5 separate regions of the Homo sapiens genome follow, and all the other regions are linked to region 1. Evidence: fine-mapped expression QTL. A gene starts in region 1. Each other region holds a variant in brackets. All regions are shown on one strand. Distances are between the middles of the regions.

Region 1 (4,117 bases):
CAAGTCACAGTTTTTCTAGAAACAAAGGTGTGGTTGGGGCATCCCATTCCATTGCTACCCCAACAAGGGCAGTGTGGCCGGTGGGGCCATCTGGCTTGGGTGTGGGTAGCAGTTTGGAGAGATTTTAGAAGAGGCTCCCTGACAAAGGGTCAGAGAACCCCAGCACTGCACTGAGTTTTCCTGACTGTGAGCTCTCAGACAAACAACAGTGTCACCTCCTGTAAATGGGTGCCCTAACACTGCAAGAAGCTCAAATTCATGTTGTCATTCAGCCAACATGGTTTTTGGCATTATGATGGTTTCTGTGATGCACAGAATAGCACGTAATTGGCTCTGGGTGTGAAGATCACCACGGTCTTAATGGAAGAGAGGGTTGAGCAAAGTGATGATTTAGTCCAATTGCACAGAGTGGATGGTGTGGGCAGGCAGCTGGGAAGAAGTTAAGAGTAGCCTCAAGGCCAGATAGTCCTGATCCCTCCCACTTTCTTCGCCTGACCAGGTGGGTGACCTTGAACAAGTTGCCTAGAATGTCAGATCCTGTTTCCTTATCAGGACAAAGGAGATCGTAACAGTACCAGCCTCACCCCCATTCCTAACCCAGCTGGCTGTGACCTCCTCCCCACCTTCCCCTATGGCATCTTCCCTGGCACCCCTTGACTCATCTCATTGACTCTTGACCTGGTGTCTCCTAGAGTGTAGGAAAAATGCCTGCCTCATCTCTAGGGGCTGGGGCATGGTGCTCATGAAGCCTTTGCCTGGGAATAAATACCCAGATCAGTCTGGGGATGAGAAATGACACTACCTTCCAGAGCACAGCAGGGGTTGTTCAAGTCTTCCAGAAAAGCAGCTCTTGTTTCTCCTCATGTGGTGGGAGTGGAGTCAGAGCGTGGCTCAGGCCCCACATTCTCAGCTGTTTGGATCTGGGGACTCGAAGTTTCTGGTGGTTACTTCTGAAAGTCTTTTCCAGGATAATTATTCTTGCTCGGTTTCTCTGCCATCTCTGACAGGCTGTTTTCCCTGCTTCCCCCGCTGCCCTGAAGGGGCCAGAGGAACAGGGCAGGACCCCAGGGCTGCGGATGGGTTAGGCAGCTCTGTTCCCGAATCCAAAGCAGTTCTTGGTGACTGTCCTCCAAGACTTGCCCTGGACCCTGCTCCGGGTGGGATTCTGAGACCGCCTGCTCCACGTGGCAGATGAAATCTAGGTCTCTTCTGTGAGAGGCTGGCGGGGAGGATGTTTTCCTGGAAAGGACCACAGGACAAACCGCTGATGAAATTTCTCTTGTGACCTCCCTGGAGGAAGAGCACTTCTGATTTCTGCAAACTTTTTCCATTCCCCCGATCTCACAAATGGGGAAACTGAGGCTAAGCGACTGAGTTCAGGGCCATCTGAATCTCAGGGATGGACAGTCAGGATGGACAACCTATAGGCCTTTCCTCCTCTGAGAATCTCTCTGCTCGGGATCGTTTTTCTGGTTTCCCCTGGCTTGCCTAAATTCTGCTCATTTGTCCCGGCGCATTTTAAGAAGTCATGTGACTTCTAAAGACTTCCCTGACCTCCTCCCTTCATTAGCTGGGTATTTCAGGGGCTTCTACGGCACCCTAGGCTTTCCGGAGCGGCTGTGCTCCTTTATGTATGCGCGACTCCCACTAGGCTATGAGCTACAGGAGGGAGGGTAGGTCTTGCTCCCGGAGAGCACCTTAATCACAGGCGCTGAATGAAAGAATGAACTGGTTGTGCAGGAACCAGGATCCGAACCCGCCTCCCCAGGTACTCTAACACCGGCCCGGCGGAACCTGCAAGCCTCCAGACCACTTGGAGCCTGGGCTGCTCAATGGGTCTGATAATTCCAGGTCCTCTCTGCGGCCAGCGAAGGGAGGTCCCAGGGCGCACCTCGGCAGGGCGGGGGACCCCGGTGAAGGGCGCCTGGAGGCGCGCTGCATTGTTAGGGTGATGAGGCCAGGTGACCCGCCAGGCTCGGGGCGCGGGCGCGGGGGCCGGCCGTGGCGATTGCCCGCGCCGCCTCGAGGGGGCCCTGCCGCGGGCGCCGGCAGCCAGCCAGGAGGACGGGCCCGCCCGCGCGCTACTCGGAGCCCAGCCTCGTTGCGGCCATCGCCCTGCCGGACCGCGCCTCAGGCTCCCCCAGGTACTGGGGCCGGGGAAGGAGGAAACGCGGCCACGCGCCGCGGTCCTCTTTGTTTCGGGCCCGGCGCGGGCTTTCGCGCTCCGGGCGCAGGAACGAGGCTTGGGGAGCACAGAGATCTGGAGCTGGGGCGCGGGGACTGAGTTCGGGGAGCGCGGAGACAGAGTTCGGGGAGCGCGGGGTACGGGAGCTCAGGGCGCGGGGATGGGGTCACGGGAGAACCCAGGTTAGGGAGCGCGGGGACCCGGTTGGGGGCGCACGGGCAAGGGGTTTGGTGCGCGCGGGTACGGGGTTTGCGGCGCGTGGGGGGCGGGGGCTCGGCAGGAGTCCCAGGACAGGGGCTGGGGCGCGGGCCAGCTTCGCCGGAGTCCGGGGACGGGGGCGCTGACTGGCTGGGTTTGGGGACTGGCTGGGGCGCAGGACCACTCGAGTGGGACCCGTGGCGCCCGGGCGCCCTGGACTGAGGGCAGAGACCGGAGCAGCTATGTCGCAGTCGCTGTCGGGACCGAGCGGACTTTGCTCCCTAGGACTCCGTCTCGAGACTCCAGGTGGAGAGCGCAGCTAGGGGCTTCAATGGGCAGGCTCAAGACCCTTCTCCTACTTTTTCTAGGCAAGCTCTCCAGTGCGTCTCTTTCCCTTTCCCTTTGGTGGGTGGGAGGCAGGGGGTCTTTACGCGCTTCCTTTTTTTCCCTGAAGGACGGGACCTCGGGGTGGGGGGATATTCTGGGGTGGGGGGTGCTGTCCCAGGCTGGGGGCCAGCTGTGTGGCATGTGCCTCCTGGCACGCGGGAGCTGTCGCTGACAAGCAGGAGGAGGGAGGGTCCCGGACGGCCCAGGGGTCTCTGTGTCGGTGCTGTGCAGCGGCCTGACATGTGAGTCCCGGGTCCTTTGCTTGGAGTGATTTGAGTGTCTGTGGCGGGAAGAGATTCAGGCGTTCCTCAGGCATTCTCCAGACAGTGTCAGCAGATGACCCGAACTCCAGCGTGGTTGAAAAACTCAAAGCGCCATCAGGGTGTGGGGCCAGCAGAGAGCACTACTGAGGGTGGTCACAACCCCCTGGGAAGCCCCCAGGCTTCCTTGGGGCGCATTCACACACTTTGATCTTCCGGGTTGGCTTTCCCCCCATTTTTTTCACTATTTGAATGCATGATCATGGAGGACTCTGAAAATATACTGAAAAGTATGAATGCAGAACTCATTGTATTAATATTGCATGGCCCTTCTGAACTAACCAACCCTTTGACATTTTAGATTTTCTTGAGGCTTTGGTCTGTGCATATTAATTTTTTAAATTGCTTTCATGCTTTCCCTTTTGAATGAGGTTTACTTGTTCTGGTGATTCTGGTTCTTCTCTCTTTGGGGCCTGTGAGGTTATATTTGCAAATCAATCAACAAGTATTAAGAAAGGCTTTTCTGTGCTGAGGCCTTGAGGGCCAGGGAGGGGGTGGGGAGTCGCTGCAGCTGGAGGGTGGAGGGGCAAGGCCATTACACAGAGATGGAGGTGCACTGGGTCCTGGTGGGGGTGTGGTAGCACAGGGGGTGGGGGGTGTGTACACAGGGAATTGACAGGAGGAACTGGCAGCAAGCCCGACTCCTGACCTTAGGAATAGTAATGGTGACCCCGAAGACAAAGTAACAGGCATACCGATTGAGTGTTTGCCTGTGCTAAATGCTTTGCATGCATTCATTTCATTTCACCCAAATTACATTCCTTGGAGGGAGTTGGGATTATGATTACCCCATTTTACAGACGAGTAAACTGAGGCAAAGGAAGGCTAAGTAACTTGGCCGAGATGAAATGAAACATGGTGGTAGTGCAGCCTGGGATTCTGGGACAGGACTCTAGGGTCCCAGACCCCTGTTCCTGGCTGCTGCTGCGCGTCTGTCGACTGAATTCTAATGCATGTCCAGACAGCGATTCCTCAGCTGAGGCTGCCATAGCTATCAGCAGCTCAGCTGAATTATGTCTTTAAAAAA
Region 2 (4,117 bases), 86 kb before region 1:
CGGACTTGAGCCGTCCTCCCACCTCAGCTTCCCCAGTAGCTGAGACCACAGGCATGCACCACCGTGGCCGGCTAATTGTTTTATTTTTATCTTTTAGTAGAGACAGGGTCTCTCTATGTTGCCCAGGCTGGTCTCAAACTCCTGGGCTCAAGCAGTCCTCCCTCGTTGGCCTTTCAAAGTGCTGAGATGACAGGTGTGAGCCACCGAGCCCGGCCAACAAGTTTTTTTAAGTGAAGGAAAACGAAAAACAAATTTCAGATTGGGGAACAGCTAGAGGCAGCCACAGGAACAACTTGCAGTGGGTGTTGGGCAGCAGGCTGAGTCACTCCCTGGCTCCACTGGGCTGTGTCATGTGCACACGCTTCATGTATGCCTTAAGTGACGTTCAAAAGAACACAATGCCACATGAAGCCTAACTCAGCAAGCCCTTTCTGTAAGAGGAGAAATAACTACCCCTGCTCTTGCCCACTTTCTTTCAACAGGGGCCAGCATCACCTGCTCCCCTCCCCCATCTCTATGTTCCATCTCTGGCAGCCTCTGCACAAAGGTGTCCTCCAGGAGGCCAGGTGGGCACCAAGGTTCTTGAAAAGAAAGGAAAGGGAAGCGCAGTGTTCCACAGCTGGTTCCCAAGAAAACAGCAAAACAACTGCGCACTCATTCTGAAGGACGGCAGACAAGACGGTTCCTCAACACATGAACTGGTTTTTCTTGATGAGTGATGGGTTTTTGACCCATTCCTGCTGCCCCTTCTGGGAAAACTGGGCAGCCCCAGGCTGTGTCAATGTCACCAGCTGAATTGTGTTACCCAAAATTCCAAGACTGAAGTCCTAACCAGAATCTCAGGATGTGACCTTCTTTGGAGATAGGGCCTTTACCAGGAAATTAAGGTAAAATGAGGCATTACGGTGGGCCTTAATCCAATGACTGGTGTCCTTATAACAAGAGGAGATTGGGACACAGGCTTACACACACATCCTTAGGGAAGAGGGAGGAGACAGCTATCTACCATCCGAGGAGAGATGCCTCAGGAGAAACCAAACCTGCCAACACCTTAGTCTCTGCCTTGCTGCCTCCAGGACTGCGAGGAAATTCATTTCTGAGGGTTCAGCCACCCAGCCTGCAGCACCTGCTATGACATCCTCGGAAAATGAAGACTGTGTGCCCTTTTTTCTACCTCCTGTGGTTCGAGGGCAGACCCAAGCCCGGGATAAAGCACGCTAGGTTTGGAATTCACTCCCACACTCCTTAAGATAGTTCCTACATAACCTTTGCTGAATTCCTCTAGCTTTCCATGCCTCTGTTTTCTCACTGGTAAAGTTGGGATCCTACGGCCTTCATCATGAAAGCTGTTAAGAAGATTGAGTTCATGTGAAGTTTAGAACAATGCCTGATACAGAGAAGCACTCAATAATGATGTTGGCTCCTACTACTATTTTTATTAGGAGACTTTTATTCATTAAGCAAGTATTTATTGAGCATCTGCTATGCCCTAGGGACAAACAGACCTAGATGACACTCATCTGGTTTAGTTGAATGGACCTAGCTGCAGGTACTACTTGGCCTGGAGGGGATCCGTCGGTATCCTCTTGGCTCCAGGAGCATCTCCTATTGCTGCACCCCAAGGGCCTGAATTGTTGCTGGTGTACATTAGGCACTCAACAACTGCACAGTGAAACAAAGCCAGAAGGCTGACCCCCATTGGCTCAGTCCAGCCCTTTCCTTGCTACTGCTCAGATAGAGCTTGGAGCCTCCCTCTTGCGCAGCTGGGCAAGGCCAGGGCAGCTCTCACTTTTCGGCAAACCCTGCCCCTTCCTCGGTCCCCAGGTTCAGTGGTCCCTGGAGCCCACTCCCTGATGTCCTCTTCCTCACACAAAGATCCTGAAAGGCAACCTTAATTCCCACAGCCTACTCCTGGCCTTTGCTACATTCATTCATCCATTTGACTCACTCTTTTTTTTTTTTTTTTTTTTTTTTTTGAGCTGGAGT[C/T]TCGCACTGTCGCCCAGGCTGGAGTGCAGTGGTGCAATCTCAGCTCACTGCAACCTCTGCCTCCCGGGTTCAAGTGATTCTCCTGCCTCAGCCTCCCGAGTAGCTGGGATTATAGGCGCCTGCCACCACACCCAGCTAACATTTTGTATTTTTGGTAGGGATGGGGTTTCACCATGCTGGCCAGGCTGGTCTCGAACTCCTGACCTCGTGATTCGCCCACCTCGGCCTCCCAAAGTGCTGAGATTACAGGCATGAGCCACTGCGCCTGGCCAACTCACCTTTTCTTTATGGAGAAAATGGGCTCTGTGTTTCGGCTGAGGGTCGGCTACATGCCTGCATGAACCAAGAGAGCGAGGCTACACGCACAGCAGCTCTGCAGACTCCAGGGCTGAATGCTCCTGAGGGCAGCACAAAGCCCTGTGGGAGCAGCAAAGGGGAGGGTCTGCCTCACACTCAGGTATTAGGAAGATCTGTGCCCCTTCTCCCTAAGGTAAAGTTTGACTTGGGCCTTAAAGAGGGTATCTGAGTTTGACAATGGAGAAGGACTCAAGACCAGGGGTCCTACAGGGCCTGTGTACCTCCAACAGGGAAGGCTGATCCCAGCTTTAACTCGGTTACCTCATCCTGCCACCATAATGCTGCAACCTCCTTGAGTGAGACTTCTTTTTTTTTTTGGACAGAGTCTCACTCTGTCACCCAGGCTGGAGTAGCTGGGACTAGAGGTATGCACCACTATGCCCAGCTAATTTTTTTGTATTTTTCGTAGAGACAGGGTTTCGCCATGTTGAACAGGCTGGTCTCGAACTTCTGACCTCAAGTGACCCACCCTCCTTGGCCTCCCAAAGTGCTGGGATTACAGGCATGAGCCACCATACCCGGCCGAGTGAGACTTCTTGCGTGGTACATGTTAGGGCCCCTGCAGGACAGAGCCAGCAGGTCGGCTTTATAGGACCAGTACATGCTGCTGAGGTCCTACTCACTAGGAAGTGTCACGGCCCTCAGCCTTAGGCCCCAGTACTCATCAAAAAGGGACTCATGGGTGAGAATGACCAACATGGCTTGTGTCCTTGTAGGCCAGTCAGGGAAAGCCTGTGCTGTAAGGCTGAGATCAATGTCCCACCTTCAGCCAAGGGCCAAGGCCCCCGGGTCTCCACATAGGGAAACCAGAAGAACTGGTCCCTTGGGCTCCTTGGAGTTACCAATCCAGAGGACTGCAGCAGGACTAGGTCCGCCTTTGCAGTTAACCATGTTTGATTACAGCACTTTAGAGTCCATAACTGCACTGTCTGAATAATCATCACAGCCGCTGCCATGAACTGAACTCTTACTATTCCAGGAATGGCTCATATTTTTCACAGACTTTTAACAGTATGATTCTTGAAGGTTTAGGTCATTCTGAAAGTTGATATGCCAATGACAAAAAAAAAATAGCAAGAAAAGAAAAACAACATTTTTTTTTATCATGAACCTACCTTCATTGTATCTGAATATACGTACCGTGCAAGAAGGCTCACTCGGCCTGGCGCGGTGGCTTATGCCTGCAATCCCAGCACTTTGGGAGGCTAAGGCAGGTGGATGTCATGTAGGAGCTGGTTGAAAACTGAATTCCCTTAAAGTACATGTGATGTTTGAGACATTCTGCTGGAATGTAGAATTGACATTCGGGCTGAGGCAGCATTTCCATAGTTCCTCCTGGCCCCGGTCAGTTATGCACAGATGGTACAAAGGGTTCATTCAGCAGGAGAACCTGAGGCCTAGCAGCCTGTCCAAACCCTGCAGCAGGTAAGGGGGGTTCTGTTCTCGTTTTCTTCTGCTGCCAATCCAGCACTTTATATTCTAAAGAAGAATGCAAATTTCCAAGAAAAGCCAGAGAATCAATTAACTAAAGTATCGTATTTTCCTTTGTAAGTGATTTTGAATCCTGTCTGGAACAAAGTGGGCACACATATATACATGCATGCATAACATGCATTAGCTAATGAATTATGGTAGAAGACCCTGCTTACTTATTTTCCATCAGTCAAGCTATAATCATGCTCATTAAATTTGTGATGTAAGAAATTGATTTTGTGGGAAAATTTGTTTTTGTTTTTGTTGTTTTCACCTTTTAGTGGGCAGATCGTTGGAGAAG
Region 3 (4,117 bases), 250 kb after region 1:
GGGACTGATAGAGAGACACAGCGTGAGAAGAGGACAAGAGGAAGACAGAGACAGAGAGATTATTTTGACACAATGCTTTATTTTTATTGAAAAAGCTGTCATCCTTCAAAAATTGACAGATACAATGCTTTTACCAATCTTCTTCTTTCTTTCCTGTACTCGACTCCCTTTTCTGTTGAATTTTTATGAGCTCTGAATGAGAATGTTTATAATAGGGACAAAGGCATGTACTGAATGTGAATATGTGTGACATTTATAGAGGCCCTTGTTTACTTTGGATTTTCTAGAGCCTCAAAAGCACATGCATTCCTATATGGATTTCTCCATGGGTTTATATTCAGGTACGTAGGCATATGTAAGTGTGCATAGGAATAGACATGCCTGGATACATGCCTGTGATGTACTTTGCATTCCAATTAGTGCCAAAGAATGCACACTGGTGCATGGTGACCCCAAAAAACTGGTGTGGATTAGCAAACATCGCAGCCTCCTCCAACCCCTGCCCCAGATGAACAACATGAAAAAGAAAAGTTGACTGCTTCTAAATTATATTTAAAAGTAAACATCAGTGCTGGGTTCGTGGAGGTCAGCCTAAAGTGCTGGCCTGTGAATGTGCCTTTAGGGGTCTTTTGAGATGAGAACATGAATTCATTTGAGGGTGATGAAGCTAAAAAAAAAAAAGGTGTTGGCTTTCTGTGCTGACACCTCATCCGCGGAGCAGGCCAGCTTGGAAGTGTCCCCATGTCAGCCTGCAGACTTCTCTACCATGCTGAATGTTCTCGTTTGCTCACTTTGGGTTTAGAGGAATCTGCTTTTCTAAATTTATTTATCAGCTCATTCCATTACCCCCTCCTCTCCTGGTGGACTGTTCTTGACCCTCAGCATGTAGAAGTTATTCTGAAGTGCTGCTAACAGGATTTGATGCTGGCCCTGGGGCTTGGTGACAGATGTGGCTCTGGTCCTGCCCGTCTGTAGCTCTGTGATCTTGAACAGTTTGCATAACCTCTGAAAGCATCTTTTAAATCTAAGTAAAATAAGAATATGTGTGCCATGCATGGTGTTGGGGGAAGTCTCTTAAAAATGAAAATTTCAGCCTGTGAATACGGTAGTGTAACAAAAATTTGTCTTAAAATTTCATTTTTTAAATTCAAAATGCACTTCCTTATTCAAGCATTTTCTGAGCCCCATTGTCTATGAGAATTGTGCTCCATCCCGGGATTGAGGAAGGGAGGCGGTCCTGGCCCTGGGGCAGCTCGCGGGCTGGGGTCCCTTCTGAAGCAGCCTGTGGCTGGTGTGGAATCCGGAATCCACAGCTCGGGCCTGAGCCTGGGCTTGTCTCCTCCTCGCTGCTTTGAACAGGAAAAGGCAGTTCAGCCCAGCAGGATGCCTCTTAGAACTGGGAATGGCTTGGAAGAAAATGCTTATGAAGCCCCAGCATATAAAATGTGCAAGGATGTTTCCCTGCTGGAAGCATTTACCTGGTATCCCTTGCATTTTTACTTTCCTCCGAAGGCCCTCACCTTGTAATCCACCTCCCCACAGTTCCATCCCCTCTAGACAGCAGCCTGCCTCACAGTGGTGTCCCAAGAGCACTGGGCGTCAAGAGGTAAAATGCCTGGGCATTTTCTCTGAAGCACCTGTTACCACTGTCCCTTCAGGCTGTGATTCCTGGCCAAAATGCACCCATTCTTTTTGACACACTTGGGAGGGTCTGGGATTGTGAGACTTGCAGAAGGGTCAGATGTCTTGAGTCACTGAGAGGGCTGAAGAAGGAATATGTAGTCTGCTTCTTGACATTTGTTACTGGCCCGGGCCTGCCCCATCAGAGCCTTTGAGGGCATTACCAAGGTGCCCCCCAGATTAGTGTACCTCCTCAACAGATAGGCATTGGCCAGGCTGTCCTACTTAGGCCAGGAACCACCTTGTTGTCTGTTTAAATTCTATCACATTTTAGTGACACACATATGTAGACATGTTATATGGTACATATGTGTGTTATGTGTGCAGGTATTTATGGCTCTGCCTAGATTGAGGCATTTGCCACTTTCTGAGCACTTCTTACAGGCCATGCACTTATATATGCACACATGTAGAGAAAGAGCAAATGAACAAGTTTACAAAAAATCCTGAAAGCCAGGCAAGTGAGAATTCCATCATTTGGAATGAAAGTAAACTTTTCTGATGCTTCAGGGCCAACCAAGTGTGCGATGGGCGTCAGAGGTCAGGTCTCCATGTGTCACCTGGCAGAGGGATGGTGTGAGCAGCTCACTGGAATTTGATTTTTCCAGAGGAGCATGAGATTGGGTTACTGTGAAGTCCCAGTGTCGCTGAGGTTGTGGAGGGTTTGTGTTTTGTGTTTGTTTTTAATTCCTTCTCCGCAATGCCCAAGTGAGCACTCCACTTGAGTCTCA[A/G]GAACCCCAGAGTAGAGCTCGCCCTGGGGTGCTGGCCAGCACGTAATTCTCAGGAACAAACAAGTACATTCGAATAAAGCTGAGGATCTCAGTCTGCAGTGCCTGGTCCCTCGGAGGCATTCTAGTATCCCTCTTAGTTTTGTTTTATTGGGGCAGAGCCTGTTGCTGAAAACAGAACCTGTGGGTCACCCTGACTATCCTTCCCAGGCCTTCGAGAACTGCCTTGCATGTAGTAGAGAGACTCACAGTTTGCAGGAGTGGCACCGTCTTTGAGGCAGCTTTCACATAAAGCATCTGAAGTTCCTTTGCTAAGTCATGTGCCCAGTCCTCAAAGGTACCTGCAGATCACCTGATCGCTGGGAGTAGGGCTGGTCCAGGGTTCCTCTTATTGTGTGCACACATAAGGTTCGCCCGAGTCCGGTGGGACAGAGATGTGGGAGGTGATGGGATGCAGCCCCTGTAGGACCCGTGAGGCTGGTGGACAGGCAGTGCGGGCTGGTGGGAGGGTGTTAAGGGAGAATTCCATCCAGCTGATCAGGTCGTGTCTCAGGAAGGACGTGCCCCCTATGGAGGCTGCGAGACCTTTAAACTTGCTCATCCCTTCCCGTGTGTCTTCTCTGGGCGCCCCAGCTCCTCCCTTCTCCTTGGTTTAATGCCCCTTTTCTCACCTCCCTCTGGCAACCAAGTCTGCTTGTGTCTTCCTCCGAAAGGGAAACTCCTGTTGCCCCTTCTCTCCCTCTGTTCCTCCTCTCCCTCCTTGCTTCACCTTCCCTCCGTCCTTTTGTTTCTGCTGCCTCGCTCTCACCTGCATTTGAAGGATGTGACTTCCCAGTGGGACCTGGGTTGGGATTTGGTGTCACCCTCCCTCCCTCAGCCTCAGGACATTTCCAGAGCAGAGTCTTCATCACACTCCTGGCATCTAACACAGAGAAGGATCTGGATAAAAGTTTGTTTTGTTTTCTGATGGGTAAGTGGAAGGAGAGAGACAGTCTCTCAGCTCCAGGGAGCTGAGTGCATCATGCCTGCAAAGGGCCTGAGCCCGCAGAGTGGGAGCTGCGTGAGACCAGCACCTGTGTTTCTGAGAGGAGACCTGGCATTGCCGGCTGGTGGGGTGGGCTGTCCTCTTCCAGGTGTCTGATTTGCACCCCTGCTTGATTTTGCTAAGGTGCAGTGGGTGGTCCTGGCTGTAGCAGAGTCAACATGTGGACAGTCCAGGTCCTGTCGTCCCCGGGGATCTCTGGGTGTTTGGGTGGGGGGAGCAGACTGTCCGGGAAGAATTTTTAAATGTTTTTTCCTCAGTGGACTTGCTGCCACCTGGAGCCCACCTTTGAAATCACTTTAGTCCCTGGCACTGCAGCTGAGGAGAAAGAAGCAAGAGAGGAAAGATAAACAGATCTCCAGAAGATGCTTAAATCTGTAGATTCACACTCAGGATTGTCCCAGTCATGGCTGTGACACGGGCACAGAAGCAGCATGCCCTGCCTCCTCCTCCCTGCTGCCCATCCCTGTGGGTTTGCTCCGAGTCACTGAGCCCACAGTTCCACGGAGGGAATGGGACCCACCCTTGGGAGTGCCATCCTGGTCACAGTCACCCTTCCTGGGCCTGGCTGCCCCATGCTGGTGCCGCCCCGTGCCGCCTTCCTCTCTGCTTGGGGAGTGACAGGCACGGGAAAGGCCAGTCCATCCGCTTCCGCTGAGCCTGCTCT
Region 4 (4,117 bases), 94 kb before region 1:
AATTGTAAATTCTGCCTTCAGGTCATTCTTTTGCTGCCATAACTGAGCATAAGCTGTTGAAAGTAACCACACCACTTCTTGAGTGATTTGCTGCTTAGAAATTTCATCCGCCAGATTATCTTAGGTCATCCCTCTTAAGTTCAACCTTCCATAAAGCCTTAGGGCATAAATACAAATATTTGTAACAAGTGTGACCTTTGTTCCAGTTTCCAAATAGATACTTCCCATTTCCATCTGTGACCTTATCAGAATGGCCTTTACTGTCCATAATTCTATAAACATTTTGGTCACAATAACTTAACTAGTCTCCAAGAAATTCCAAACTTACCCTAATCTCTTTGTCTTCTTTGGGCCCTCACCAGAATTATCCTTAATGCCCACTTCAGGGCAATGCAGTGCTTTTCTAGCCAGCTCCTCCAAACTCTTTCAACCTGTGGCCATTTCCCAGTTCCACACTGGCTTCCACATTTTCAAGTACCTTTATAAAAAGACCCCACTGCTCAATACCAATCTTCCATCATAGTCTATTTTGTGTCGCTAAAACAGAATACTTGAGTCTGGGTAATGTATAAAGAAAAGAGGTTTATTTAGCTCACAGTTCTGCAGGCTGAGAAGTTCAAGAGCATGGCCCTGGTTTCTGGTGAGAGCTTTTGTGCTGCATCATAACATACATGATGAAGAAGGTCAAAGGGCAAGAAGACACACCTGAAGAAACAAAATGCAAGAAGCATTCTGTCTGTTTAACAGTCAACTTTTGCGGGAACTAATTCATTCTGTGGGAAATTATCCAGGCTCATCAGAGTGAGAACTCATCACCACAAGAACAGTACCAAGACATTCACGAGGGATCCATCCCCATGACCCAAACACCTCCCGCTAGGCCCCATCTCCCAAAGCCACTGCACCGATGGTAGAGATGAATAAGCCCATTTCCAAACCATAGCAGGTAACTGCAGAGCTATGACATCCACAGATAACGAACATGACAAAACCTCACGGCACAGAGGAGTGCCATGTGGTTTGGAGGAGAGCGTAGAGAAGTTTGCAGTGGATCTGCTTCACTCCATCTATAAATTCAAATGCTAATCTTTTCTGCAAACACCCTCACAGACACACCAGAACTAATGTTTTACCAATTACCTAGGTATCCCTTAGCCCAGTCAAGTTGACACATGAAACTGTCACAAGCACAAACCACATCTGTCTCTCTAGTGCTTTTTCCCTAAGCACCAAGCACTATACCCAGCACAGAAAAGACATCCAATACATATGTGTTCTATAGAATGGAAAGGAATGTTTTTCCACCATCTTGAATCAGGCACTTGACCCAGGGGTTACATAGCCATTGCACAATTCCTTCAGTGCTATAAGAATGGGCTATAACTGGCCAGGCGCGGTGGCTCACTCCTGTAATCCCAGCACTTTGGGAGGCCGAGGTGGGTGGATTACGAGGTCAGGAGATCGAGACCATCCTGGCTAACACGGTGAAACCCCATCTCTACTAAAAATACAAAAAATTAGCCAGGCGAGGTGGCGGGTGCCTGTAGTCCCAGCTGCTGAGGCAGGAGAATGGCATGAACCCTAGAGGGTGGAGCCTGCAGTGAGCCGAGATCGCACCACTGCACTCCAGCCTGGGTGACATCAAGACTCCGTCTCAAAAAAAAAAAAAAAAAAAAGAATAGGCTATAACTGGGCCAGGTGCAGTGGCTCATTGGCTCATGCCTGTAATCCCAGTACTTTAGGAGCCTGAGGTGGGCAGATCACGAGGTCAGGAGATTGAAACCATCCTGGCTAACACAGTGAAACCCCGTCTCTACTAAAAGCACAAAAAATTAGCTGGGCGTGGTGGCGGGCGCCTGTAGTCCCAGCTACTCGCAAGGCTGAGGCAGAAGAATGGCATGAACCCGGGAGGCAGAGCTTGCAGTGAGCCGAGATTGCGCCACTGCACTCCAGCCTAGGCAACAGAGTGAGACTCTGTCTCAAAAAAAAAAAAAAAAAAAAAAAAAAAAGAATGGGCGATAACTGTTATTGCACCCATTCAATACACAGGCAGACTGAGACAGCAAAGTCAAGATTTGAACGCAAGAGCAAGATTTGAGAAACTGAGGCATTTTTACTCTTCTGTGCTGCCTTACTTGTTGGCAGTACACATGAAAGACATCAAGATTTAGATCTGTGTCAGCTTTCCCTCAAATGGTAAAGAAGGACAGGGTTTGAATTTCTTGGTGAACTTGGAAATACCCGATGACTTGAACCATTAGGGTTTAGGATACTTTTTCTTCAGGCAGCATGTTGCCTCCTATGCATAAATTAAGTCAATTCAGTATTCCCAGTATGGCTGGAAAAACATCATACTAAGCTAACAATTTTCAGTGTCATTTAAGAATTGCACTGAGGTGGCCAGGCACGGTGGCTCACGCCTATAATCCCAGCACTTTGGGAGGCTGAGGTGGGCGGATTGCAAGGTCAGGAGTTCAAGACCAGCCTGGCCAATATGGTGAAAACCCGTCTCTACTAAAAATACAAAAATTAGCCAGGTGTGGT[G/C]GTGGGTGCCTGTAATCCCAGCTACTCAGGAGGCTGAGGCAGGAGAACCACTTGAACCAGGGAGGTGGAGGTTGCAGTGAGCCAAGATCACGCCACTGCACCCCGGCCTGGGTGACAGAAAGAGACTCTGTCTCAAAAAACAAAAAAAATTTTGCATTGAGGCCAAGTGTGGTGGCTCATGCTTGTAATCCCAGCTTTTAGGGAGGCCAAGGCAGGAGGATTGCTTTGGCTCACAATCCCTTAAAGCTGCCGTTTCTCTCCTGTGTTACAATGTGCACAGTGACTGCACTGATCAGTCACCACTGGGATGTGCTTGAGTGTGTATGTTTGTCTGAGTGTGTATGCTAATATGTATAAAAGTTTGTGTGTGTGAGGGAGTGTGAGTACATGAGAGTGCATGTGAATGTGTGAGTCTGTAAGAGAGTGTGTGTCTGTGGGGCATGTGAGAGCATTGTGAGAGTATGTGTGCATGTGTGTATGTGTGCACAATTGTGTGAGAGCATTGTGAGGGTATGTGTGCATGTGTGTGAGAGTATGTGTGCATGTGTGTATGTGTGTGTGCATGAGCGTGTGAATGCAGGTGTGTTTTCTGCTCTGCTCTGATCACTTTTCTACCTGGCCTCTCTTCCTTCACATTTGCCCCCCAGAATCCCTTCTCCACACAACACCTGAATTCTCTGTTTGTAGAGCTGATAATACCCTATGATTCCCCTGCCTAAAATCCTCCAGCAGCTTCCACCTGACTTCTAACTAAAACCCAGCTCCTCACCGTGCCCCATAGGCCCTAGCTCAGTGAGGTGGGGCGCCTGCCTGCTGCTCAGAGCCTGGCTCTGCCTCTCTCCCCTCCTGCTTGCCCCAACCACCATGAGCTTTTGTCCAGCCTGGGAGGGACCAAGCTTTTTGGCACTGTAAGGACTTCGTGTGTCCTCCCAGCCCAGACCCCCAGAATGCTTTGTCCTCTGGCTGGTGCGAGTGTTAGGAAAGTCCGCATCTTCAGAGAGGCCTTTGACCCCGTCCATATGGACTGATTACCTCCATCTCCCACTTCTAGAATGTAAGCTCATGAGGCAGAGCCTAGTGGGTCGTGTTCCTGGCCATACCTCCAGGGCCTGGCATAAAGCAGGCCCCCGCAGACCCCCAAGAATCTCTATGAAGGCCAGTGGTGGATGCACCAGGCTGGGAATCGGAGTCTGCCCCTGCAGTTGCCGTCGTCCAGCACCTTAGACCCTCTGAGCCTCGGTTGCTCCATTTTTCTTTTTCTTTTCTTTCTTTTTTTTTTTTTTTTTTTTTTTGAGACGGAGTCTCACTCTGTCGCCCAGGCTGGAGTGCAGTGGCGCAGTCTCGGCTTACTGCAACCTCCACCTCCCAGGTTCAAGCGATTCTCCTGCCTCAGCCTCCCAAGTAGCTGGGATTACAGGTGTGTGCCACCATGTCAGGCTAATTTTTTGTATTTTTAGTAGAGACGTGGTTTCACCATGTTAGCCAGGATGGTCTCGATCTCCTGACCTTGTGATCCACCTGCCTTGGCCTCCCAAAGTACTGGGATTACAGGTGTAAGCCACTGCACCTGGCC
Region 5 (4,117 bases), 68 kb after region 1:
TTAGCAGGGTAGGGGGTGCTGCTTACTGAGTTGGAGCTGGGAGCCGGGCACAGTCACTGTGGGTGTAGAACGGGGTAGAGGCAGGATGTGGGGATGCTGCAGCTCATTGAGTTGAGATGGGGTCCTGATAGTCACTGCAGGTGTAGACAAGGCAGAGGCAGGATGGGAGGATGCTGCTCACTGAGTTGAGATGGGGTCCTGGCAGTCACTGCAAGTTTAGATGGGACAGAGGCAGGATGTGAGGACTCTGCTCACTGAGTTGAGATGGGGTCCTGGCAGTCACTGCAAGTGTAGATGGGAGCCTGGCAGAGTCAGGGATGGGCTGCTCCACAGGAAGCTGTGGCCCTGGACAGTTGCACCCTATTTCTGTTCCTCAGTGCCGTGATCTTTACAATTTGTACATTAGAGTAGTTAATCTCTAGGATTTTCTCTTTCTCAATAGACTATATAGAGACCACTCCCCAAATAGACAATTTCATAGTGTTCTCTACTAATAATTCACATATGTCATATACATTTGCATTTTGATCCCTTTGTGTACATGCTACCTGGAAACAACAAGGTATTCCCTTTACATAGATTATGTAAGTCATCATGCATCACAGTGATGTGACGTTTTGGTAGAGGTGTTCTTTCTTTGGCTTATTTCTGGGGAAGCAGCAGAGCGTGGTGGAGGTGAGGTGGATGGTGGAGACAGCCTGCCAGCATTCCTGCTCTGCCTCTTTCTGCTTAGAGTCATTGTGAGGAATAGCAGGGTAAATACACATGAAACACAAAGAACACTGAGGAGCTCCAGAAAGTGTTCAATGGTGTCAGTAATGACGATGGTGATAATGATATTGTTAGTGATGGTGATGAGGGTGGCAATGGTATGCCGATAATGATGTTGTAATTGATGGTGATGATGGTAACGATGATGGTGATGGTGGGTGGTGGCGTGATTGATGATGATGGTATATTAGTGATGATGGTGTTGATGGGGATGGTGATGATGATGGTATGATGTTGGTGAAGATGGTGATGGTCAAGATGATCATGATGGTGATGGTGAGTGGTGATGGTGTAATTGATGGAGATGATGATGGTGATGGTGTGGTTGATGGTGACCATGGCACTGGTGATTATGTTGACATGATGATGGTGATGGTGACGATGTTGATGAATGGTGACAATGATGGTGATGATGATGTTGATGACAGCAATGATAGTGCTGTGACTGGTGATGGTGATAGTGATAGTGTAGTTGATGGTGATAGTAACAATGGCAATGGTAACGATTGTGATGATGATGCTGATCGTGATGATACTGATGGTGATGATAGATGGAGAAGGGTTAGGGGCATATTCTGTGATGCAGGCCAGTATTTCTACCGTTCCTTTTCTGGCTCATTCTTGGACTTTCAGGTCCCTGACTTTCACATTTTAACCTCCTAGTTAAATGCAAATTTCATATGTGGTTAAGTAGAAAGAAAACATTTCATCTTTTAAAAACTGTTATGTTAACATGTAAGGGCCCTGTTATCTCTACTCTTGGAACTTTAAGTAAGGGAAAGAAAAGATAGAAATGACATTGAGCAATGGGGTTAAGTGTCCAGTTGTGGTTTTTCTTACACTCCTCAAAACCTTGCTGGTGTGCTCATACCATCAGTTAGGACTCTGAGGCAACCCGTTCTCACTACATGTCACTGAGTTCCCTTGGGTGGCCTAACATGGTCCAGTTGCCAT[T/C]GATATCCCAAAATGGTTGTATTTCACAGAGGACAGAGGAAGGTGCTGTTATGGGTGAGTCTCGGCATTCTGGAATTGAGTAGATTCGGCCCCAAAAGTTACAAGTTTTGTGGGACTTGGTCCCTGGAAGAAGGTAGATCCAGGGAGGATCCAGGGTCAGACCACGCATAAATGCTCCCCATTTGAGAGATGGTTTTCTGGGATCTAATAGTGGAATCAGCGAGACTATCATGGAATGAGACAGGATGGCACAGAATAAAGAAGTGCTGCAACAAGAGAGACAGCTGTAGGGAAGGCCTAAAGGAGATGAGAGTTGAGAAAGGAAGCAAGGAGAAAGGAGAAAAGAAGCAAGGAGAAAGCTGAGAAAGGAGACCAGAGGGAAAGTGGGATGAAGGGAGTTTTGTAAGAAAGATTTGGTAATGGGTTGTTCCACGCAGTTAACCCAACATTATTAAGCACCTGCTAGGAGAGAAAGATGAGAGTTTTGTGTCCTGTCTTTGAGTCCATCGGAGTCAGCAATACACTAAGTGATTACAGATAAAGGTTTGGAGATAGACGGGCAGGTCGGTAGGTGTGTGTTTTTTGCTTTGGGCCAGGTGCAGTATTAGGACTTCAGGAGAACATGGTAGTTATTTAAAACTAACAAGGCAACAATGGGGTCATGGGGTTGAGCAGTGAATGTGGGCATTGGGCAGGCCTTGTCTGGCGGTCCCCCGCTGTGGGTTAATCAGTCCCCTCCTGCCTTGTGGAGCCTGTTACTGGGACACAGAGAGGCTGGCAAACTTGACAGTTGATGCTAGGAGAAGCAGAGGGTGACTCACAGGCTTGTTTATAACTTGGTCAATATGTTTCGAGTGTTGTATAAAAGATTCTGACAACCCTGTAAGACAGTGGCCTGGATTCCCAAGGCTCGTGGAGACGTTGTGAAGAATAGCAGTTCCAAGACAACATATAAAAATGTTGGGCGTTTGCAAGCCAGACAGCTCTGGGCTGTAACTGCTGCAGCGGGAGCCAGGATTCTTAAACATGAGTCTGGAAACCTCGTCTGACAAGGGAACTGATGTGTGGTTTGCAGACTGTCAGCTGTGGAGCCGAGTGTTCAGGCAAAGCCACGAGAAGGGGCCTGCCACACACCAGCTCAGACGCCGGAGGGTAAGCTGGGCTGGAGAAGGTTCAGGCTCCTCACAGGAAAACGCTTTTGGTGGAGCCTACTTGCATGGAATGTCACTGACCCTCTCACTTGAGATTTTTCAGCTTTTCAGTTTTTGCAAGTTGATGGATGAAAAGTGATGTCTCCTTTTTATTATGTTTTTCATTCATCTGGTGATTACATGAGGTTGAACATCTAAAAAGATACAAAAAAGCTGCCTGCAGCATTTCTGTTTACTTAGCAAAGTAGCCTTTCAAATCCTTTGTTCATTGCTTATTTAAAAATTAGATTATTTTAGGGCGTGGTGAGGTGGCTTATGCTTGTAATCCCAGCATTTTGGGACGCCGAGGCGGGAGAATCGATCGAAACCGGGAGTTCAAGACCAGCCTGGGCAACAAAACAAGACCCCATTTCTACAAAAAATTTAAAAATTGGCCTGCACAGTGGCACGCGCCAATGGTCCCAGCTACCCTAGAGGCTGAGGCAGGAGGATTGCTTCAGCCTGTAAATTTGAGGCTGCAGTGAGCTATGATCATGCCACTGCACTCCAGCCTGGGTGACAGTGAGACCTCATCTCTAAAAAGAAAAAAATAAATAACATTTTGAAAATTAATAAATTTAAAAATCATTTTTTTAAATTTCTGAGACTTCACTATATTATGAATACTAAATCTTATCTGTGATATTAGGCAGAACTTTTGCCAATTTCTAATGACATTTGTCCTCAGAAAAGGTCAGTTTCTTATCTTTCCACTTTGTACATTGCAAACATTCCAGTCAGTTGCTTGTCTAAGTTTGTTTGTGGCCTGTTTGTCACGCAAAAGTTGTAATGTTTGGTTTGTTCAGATCTACTCATCTTTTCATTTAGTTCATACTCTTGTTCCTTGTTGTAGAATGTCTGCCCTTTTCCAAAGTCACAAAGATGTTCTCTGATATTTTATTCTAATAATTCATTTCAGCTTTTCCAATTCCGAATCAGTTCTATGATTGATGCATCTGAAATTCATGGTATTTCTGTTATTATTATGATGATGTTTTTCATGGAGTAACCAGTTTTCCCAGTTTTGTTGTCTGGCTCCTCCTTTCTGTCTGAGTTGTGAGGTCTCTCTCCAGTGTCATTTTCTCTCCTATAGATGAGGCCACCGCGCATGTCTGTCGGTCACAAAGTTTATTTCATACAACACAGAGTGCTGTATATCTGTTAGCCTTGCCTTTTGTAAGAACTCTCACATGTGAAATAGT

Which allele goes with the higher level. Positions count from the first base shown, and alleles are read on the strand shown. Sizes are in standard deviations (SD) of each study's normalised expression. Not every link is listed here.
With allele A in place of G in region 3, the expression in thyroid of the gene that starts at base 2,084 in region 1 is higher (small effect, 0.26 SD a copy in GTEx).
For the expression in monocytes after Pam3CSK4 of the gene that starts at base 2,084 in region 1, T is the high allele of the variant in region 5 and C is the other (moderate effect, 0.59 SD a copy in Quach 2016).

What was found. PIP is the estimated chance that this variant, and not a neighbour inherited with it, causes the effect. A credible set is the group of variants that fine-mapping cannot tell apart.
Region 2: its variant is the best candidate, but not a certain one, in a credible set for the expression of TNS3 in blood mononuclear cells (TOPMed, PIP 0.59).
Region 3: its variant is the best candidate, but not a certain one, in a credible set for the expression of TNS3 in thyroid (GTEx, PIP 0.83).
Region 4: its variant is the best candidate, but not a certain one, in a credible set for the expression of TNS3 in whole blood (INTERVAL, PIP 0.72).
Region 5: its variant is the best candidate, but not a certain one, in a credible set for the expression of TNS3 in monocytes after Pam3CSK4 (Quach 2016, PIP 0.87).

What each region holds. Positions count from the first base shown.
Region 1 is chr7:47,580,078-47,584,194 of GRCh38, reverse strand. It overlaps TNS3 (tensin 3), which reads left to right and starts at 2,084. Exons shown (of 31, transcript NM_022748.12): 1 at 2,084-2,144. RefSeq lists enhancers at 1,673-2,210, 2,211-2,748.
Region 2 is chr7:47,665,890-47,670,006 of GRCh38, reverse strand. No RefSeq gene overlaps it. Among named protein-coding and RNA genes, the nearest start is that of LINC02902, 13 kb to the right of the region's middle. The variant C/T (reference allele first, on the strand shown) is at 1,987.
Region 3 is chr7:47,329,671-47,333,787 of GRCh38, reverse strand. The region is part of intron 20 of TNS3 (tensin 3); the gene reads left to right. Among named protein-coding and RNA genes, the nearest start is that of SNORD151, 130 kb to the left of the region's middle. The variant A/G (reference allele first, on the strand shown) is at 2,412.
Region 4 is chr7:47,673,793-47,677,909 of GRCh38, reverse strand. No RefSeq gene overlaps it. Among named protein-coding and RNA genes, the nearest start is that of LINC02902, 21 kb to the right of the region's middle. The variant G/C (reference allele first, on the strand shown) is at 2,545.
Region 5 is chr7:47,512,525-47,516,641 of GRCh38, reverse strand. The region is part of intron 2 of TNS3 (tensin 3); the gene reads left to right. Among named protein-coding and RNA genes, the nearest start is that of SNORD151, 50 kb to the right of the region's middle. The variant T/C (reference allele first, on the strand shown) is at 1,726.